Homo sapiens: one gene and its partner. Changing the gene in region 2 together with the main gene of any one other region gives a genetic interaction. Each region holds a gene or a part of one and is shown on either strand. Other genes may lie near its edges.

What was found. A genetic interaction does not mean that the proteins touch.
Region 1: changes in ARL5B (region 2) and VPS45 together harm fitness less than expected from each alone (positive genetic interaction), as found in Homo sapiens cells (one large-scale study listed by BioGRID).

What each region holds. Positions count from the first base shown.
Region 1 is NC_000001.11:150,070,776-150,074,275, reverse strand, and holds part of VPS45 (vacuolar protein sorting-associated protein 45), read right to left. Parts: intron 2,111-3,500; coding exon 2,050-2,110; intron 1-2,049. UniProt on the Homo sapiens protein: May play a role in vesicle-mediated protein trafficking from the Golgi stack through the trans-Golgi network.
Region 2 is NC_000010.11:18,665,931-18,669,430, reverse strand, and holds part of ARL5B (ADP-ribosylation factor-like protein 5B), read right to left. Parts: intron 2,857-3,500; coding exon 2,796-2,856; intron 902-2,795; coding exon 754-901; intron 1-753.

The DNA of each region.
Region 1 (3,500 bases), on a different chromosome or scaffold from region 2:
TGAAGCGGGCGTATCACCCAAGGTCAGGAGTTTGAGACCAGTCTGGACAACCAACACGGTGAAACCCTGTCTCTACTAAAAAAAAATACAAAAATTAGCTGGGCGTGGTGGTGTGTACCTGTAATCCTAGCTACTCGGGAGGCTGAGGTGGGAGAATCGCTTGAACCCGGGAGGTGGAGGTTGCAGTGAGTTGAGATGGCGACACTGCACTCCAGCCTGGGTGACAAAGCAAGACTGCTTCTCGGACAAAAAAAAAAAACAAAAACAACACACACACACACACAGAACAGCCTGGATGACTCTCCAGAGAATTATGCTGAGTGAAAAAAGCCAGTCCCAAAAGATTATATGCTGTATGATTTCATTTATAGAACATTCTTCGAATGACAAAATATAAAATGGAGAAAATATTAGTGGTTACCAGGGTTAATGAGGGGGTTGGGGTGGGACAGAAGTCCATATAAGCTAATAAAAGGGATCCTTATAGAGATGAAAATGTTGTGTATCCTGACTGTATCAGTGTTAACATCTTGGTTGTGATATTGTACTATCATCATGTAAGATACTACACAGGGGGAAGCTGGGTAAAGGGTATCTGGGATCTCTGTATTATTATTCGTTGTTTTTTTTTTAACTGCACATGAATCTACAATTACTTCAAAATAGAAAGTTTAATTTTAAAAAGAAAACCTGTGACTATTAGCCAAAAACAAACAGACAAAAACAAACAAAAATTAAGTTGCCACAGATTAATAAAATTGCCTATTTTTACCTCTTGGGGCGTCGTGCACTGAAAACCCACTGGACAAGCTTTATGTAACTTTTCAATTCTACACAGAACTGAATGAAATAAAATATGAGAGAGCTCTTATATATATATAGTCTTTTCGCAAATGTTAATTTTTTGTATCATTATTCTATTTAAGTAGTATACGCTGAAGAAAGTATGTACGTCTTAGACTGTAGTCTAAACCCTAAAACTCTAATACCTTTAAGTAAGCTTTAAAACTTCTCAAATGCCCTACTTACTGTTAAATCTAGTCCTTGGTTTTGGAAATGTTACCAAATAGACTACACTAACACTATTAACATAAAGATAAATAATGACATCTAGAGGAGAATAGATGTAACTTCTACAGCCGAATGTATTGGATCAAAAAAATCCATGTAAATTGTATAGTAAACACAAACCTAGTTTATTTCCAGATCTCCCCTACCTAACCCCCACTCCAAGAAAGTTGTGCACATAAGAGATCACTACCTGATGATTTATACTTTCAGTGCATTAAATATAGTAACAAAGAGAAGTGAAAGGCTTTTATCTGGTATGTAAAGTAAATTTCTGCTTTTCCAGCAAACTCAAGTATTACCTTCCCACTTCAAAAAATAAATCAGCTTCCATGCCTCAATTTTTAAGTGTAAAACAGGGATAAGTATATACTTTTTTTTTTTGGCAGGGGTGAGATGTGAAATTTGTCTACTTAAAACTTTTGACTTACAAAGCATCTTGAAAGGCAAAGTAAAATGTAAAATTTTTAATTTAAGCAATCAAAGATGAATGGAAATCACATTTAGCCCTCTGAAACAGAATATTGGTCAAAAGTATTTTTTTTTTTTTTGAGATGGAGTTTCGCTTTGTTGCCCAGGCTGGAGTGCAATGGCGCAATCTCGGCTCACTGCAATCTCCGCCTCTCCGGTTCAAGCGATTCTCCTGCCTCAGCCTCCCAAGTAGCTGGGATTACAGGCATGTGCCACCATGCCCAGCTAATCTTGTATTTTTAGTAGAGATGGGGTTTCACCATGTTGGTCAGGCTGGTCTCAAACTCCTCAGATGATCCGCCCGCCTTGGCCTCCCAAAGTGCTGGGATTACAGGTGTGAGCCACCGCGCCCGGCAGGTCAAAAGATTTTTAATACTTTGGAAGGACATTAAATAAACTAGACTTTTATAGTGACAGATTCAATGAAGTTATTGATGATATGAAGGGCTCAATGAAACACACTAACTGGGATGTTGTTACATGTTTGAAAAAGTGAACTAACATACTTACAAATGAAATATATAGTGTATTTGGGTCTTCGGAGCTCCTGAATAATATAATCCACATTCTCCTAGAAAATGAAGAACAAGCAAACAAAATATGAGGAGAGTTGCTTAAGGAAAAAAGTAATAAGCATTCACCCATTGATTTGTTTATTTACTGCGTCTACTGCATATTGAAGTCTAGGTTAAGTGTGCTTATGTTGGTGGGTAAGGGCTGGAGACAAAAGAGATAAATTAAATACAATGATCGGGAATCATATATTATTTAATAATATGTGTATAATATTAAATATTAACCAGCTGCATTTTGGCCAATTAAGATAAAGAATATAAAGGACACAGATGTTGAAACACAACATAAAATTGATTATAATTCTGCAAACTCACATCAAGCTGCTTGTCTATAAATTGTATTCATTTGCTCAAAATTCTTTTTTTTTTTTTTTGAGATTAAGTCTCACTCTGTTGCCCAGGCTGGAGTGCAATGGCACAATCTTGGCTCACTGTAACCTCCGTCTCCTGGGTTCAAGCAATTCTCCTGTCTCAGCCTCCCAAGTAGCTGAGATTACAGGTTTGTGCCACCATACCCAGCTAATTTTTTGTAATTGTAGCAGAGACGGGGTTTCACCATGTTGGCCAGGCTGGTCTCGAACTCCTGACCTCAACTGATCCACCTGGCTTGGCCTCCCAAAGTGTTAGGATTACAGGCATGAGCCACTGCGCCTGGCCTGATCAAAATTCCTATATAGAGCATTAAATGTGTCTATTCCTTTAAAAATTAACATGCAAGAGAAAATAAAGTTAATTATATTCACTTTGGCTTTTAACTTATTGGGATGTAAGACTCTGCACAACTACAATGTTTGTGAAGTATTTGCAAGTAGCAGGCTAAGATCTTTTCTACAATTACATTGTTTTAAAATAAAGTATGAAAGTTTAAAACAAAAAAGTTGATTTTTATATGGTCAAAATATAAGATTCCAATTACATAAGATTATAATGCAGGTTTTATTGGTTTTTGATACTATAACACCTGGTTAAATTTCAATATAAATTGTTCCCTAAACATATTAATTTGTTTTAAAAATCACATTTCTTTACAGAATTAAAAAAAAGTAAGCAATATATACTGCTTATTAATGGGGAAAGGGTTTTAAAAATTGTAATTTAGATTTAAAAATGCAATTTAGATTTCAAATTAACTTTATAATATAATCTTAAGGCAAAAAATTTAAATAATAAATCTTTTAAACCTCAATTACTTCCTCGTAATATGCTAGGCAAAAATAACAAAGTGAATTAAAAGATTCTTAAAAGTTCAGACAATGTGGAAAAAGACAAAAGAGAATATATAAAAGAGGAAAAAGAAAAAGGAAAGATTCTTTTTTAAAAATTATTTTTAATTTTTATTTTATTATTATTTTTTGAGACGGAGTCTTGCTCTGTCGCCAGGCTGGA
Region 2 (3,500 bases):
AAAAAAAATCTACCAACATTTTGAATGTTCATGGTATAAAAAATTTTTAAATTAATAAAATATTTTATTCCTCCACCGGTCAGGGTCTCTTAGAAAGTTGTGAGATCTTGGGGAAACCTACATAATATCTCCACGTGTCAGATCTCTCCAACCCTGGAGACATGAAAATCTTGTGAAGATGAATGGAGAGAACCTGGCCAAACAGTAAGCACTCAAGTAATAATAGCTCCAAACAATCTTTCTATTTGCCTTTTCTTTTATTCGAAAACCCAAATTCTTAAGTCTCATTTATGAAATTTTTATTTATTTATTTTTTAAAAAAAGGAAACCCAAATTCCCTACAAAAAAGGATCTTATTAAAAGGCCGGCCACGGTGGCTCAAGCCTGTAATCCCAGCACTTTGGGAGGCCAAGGAGGGTGGATCACGAGGTCCCGAATTCAAGACCAACCTGATCAATATGGTGAAACCCCGGTCTCTACTAAACATACAAAAATTAGCCGGGTGTGGTGGCACTCGCCTGTAATTCCTGCTATTTGGGAGGCTGAGGCAGGAGAATGGCTTGAACTCAGCAGGCGGAGCTTGCAGCGAGCCAAGATCACTCCACTGCACTCTAGCCTGGCGACAGAGCAAGACTCCGTCTTAAAAAAAAAAAAAAAAAAGGCAACTGTCAATACGCCCAGGTGCAGCCTAATTACTTTCTATGTTTACTCTAGGGACCTTTGGATTAAAATTCAAAATTCATCTTAGCATACCTCTGTATTTGAGTAATATGTGTTCCAGGATGATCGCAGAGACTCCTGACCACCAATATCCCACATAAGAAAATGAGTGTTCTTCACAACTATTTCTTCAACATTGCTTCCTATGGTTGGAGAAGTATGAACCACTTCATTCATTAAGCTGTTGAAAAACAGACACCGTAAAAGCTCTTGTAAATCTTGAGAATCTGAAGCAACTTTTATCTCTGTATTTTTAAGATCAATCAACCTTCTGCACCAATGATGGTGATCATTAGCATGAAAATTATAAACCTGGAGAACACTTGCGCAAATCAATATCTAGATAACAACTCCAGAAGAAAGACTTGTTTCTTGTTTGTTTTTTTTTTTAACGGAAGGAATTGCAAGCTTGATGGAAAAGAAAGGAAACAGTGTGGTGTGAATTTGCATTTCTGTGGCCAAAAATTCCAATACCACCATGCCCTGTTATCAGTTAGATAAGACCCAATGTCCCATGCCATCCTGAAAAGCAAGTTTCTAGGTGATTGCAAAATAGCAAATATTGGATAGCAGGCTATCTATAATTTTGAAGACTGTCTAAATTGAGACTTAGTCACAAAAATTAATTCAGGCATATTAATCTAAAGTAGTCCTAAAAAGATGACCATGGGCAAGTAAAAATTTAAATTAACTATAGATATATTTAGAAGGCCAGGTGTGGTGGCTCACACCTATAATTCTAGCACTTTGGGTGGATCACCTGAGGTCAAGAACTTGAGACCATCCTGACCAACATGGTGAAGCCTCGTCTCTACTAAAAATACAAAAATTTGCAGGGCGTGGTGGTGGGCGCTTGTAATCCCAGCTACTCTGGAAGCTGAGGCAGGAGAACCGCCTGAACCTGGGAGGTGGAGATCACGCCATTGCACTCCACCCTTAGAAACAGAGCAAAACTCTGTCTCAAATATGTGTGTGTGTGTGTTTGTGTGTGTGTGTATATATATATATATATATTTAGAATACTGATGCTCATACCCCTCGTATTATCATAATCATTGGTAAAGCTACATTAATCAATTAATTCAACAAATATGCCCTTGCCAGTAACATGTCACTACTGTGTTGGAGGAGGCTTGCAATTCTCTTGGGTTTTATGTATATTTTTGAAGCCATGTGTAAAATTATTTCAACAAAGATGACAGGTTTCTGAAATGTTTATATGTGATGTTTAAAAGCTAATTCATATTTAAACACATAATCACCAATGAATGAAAATGTTTTCAAGAGAAACAAGTAGTTGTTCAACTCTGAAACAACAAACTTTAAGTCAGTAGCTTTTTAGCAAAGTAGCTGAAAAATGCGTTAATCACTGGCTAATGAAGTACTTCTGGTGAGCTGATGGCTGTCTTCTAATGCAACATGAGTGGGAAGAGGTAAGAGCCACACAATGGGGCAAAGAACTGTAGAACTATTTTGTTAAAGTGCCTGGTAGATCCACTTCTACTGCTTAATACTATCATTTCATTGGCATTGAAAGGATAATGGAAGGTACTCTGACAAGTGGAATGATGAGCTGTGAAAATTTCCTAAGGTATTAACAGATTTCTCTGAAAGTCTCAAGACTCTCCCTCTTGCAAGCTACTACAGCAATATTTTCAGGAGTGATCACATTTCTTTTGACAAGTCTGGCTATGTTAAAAAATTCCAAAGCTATTAGTCAGGAGGGTAGCAATGGCTTCCTAGAGCTATCAATTTATTTACATAAACCCAAGTGGGGTAAGAACTAAGTGAAATCCACTTTATCACCTCACCCCAGCACTTCTAATATGCGCTTTATTTATTTAATATTAATTTCTTTCTTTCGAGGGCAGAAAACAATAAGTGTTTGTGAAGGGTTTAGCAAATGTTTATTTCACTCACTTTTCTATAGATTGTGTTCGGTAAAATTAAAAAAACAAAAAACAAAAAACATATATTTAAGTTTTTCCGTCATTATTATAATGCATCTCTTATTAATTGTAAACACATTAGTTTCAATAACTAGTGAAAACTGTTTAATAAACACCCATACTTACAATTGGTAAAGAATGGTGGTTTTCCCTGCATTATCCAGTCCCACTATAATTACTTTGTGTTCTACAAAAAGAAAGCAAATCATAAACATTTAACACTACTGCATTACTGCAATTACATGCTTTCAACAATGATTATTAGTTAGCTCATTAATGAGAATCATTCACTGAATATCTATCACTAGACTTAAAATGCAGAAAGAAATGTTATGATGTTAAGGCTACCTAGGTTAAGTAACAAAATCAATTATCATTGATTCTCTGTCTAGTTCTCATGTAAAAGAATGTGGGAGATGGGTAGGCAGGAAACACCAGCAAAGTTGGTCACTTATATTGCATCTAGGGGAGAGGAGACCCAAATATTAATCTAGGCAAAAATTATAACCTAAATGTAAGTTTTTTAAAAAGCCTGTTTTACACACCTTTTTAGCTCTGTACCAATCAAGTTAGCTTTTTATCAAAATGTTTTCATATCTGTAAGTTTCCCCACCTATGTATACCAGGATCTGTTTCTTCCTCTCACTTAAAAATCCCATGTAAGCTTAAAATTGAAACGTTTCATGTGTCACAAAGACAAACATATACTCTCAAGTTTTTACACAATTACTCATTGTTTAACATTTTTTCAACCGGCTTCTACAGTTCTTTTGAGCAGATTCTGTTTCTGCTCTTTGTACAATGAAAATCTCTTCAGTTCTTTCCTCCTTT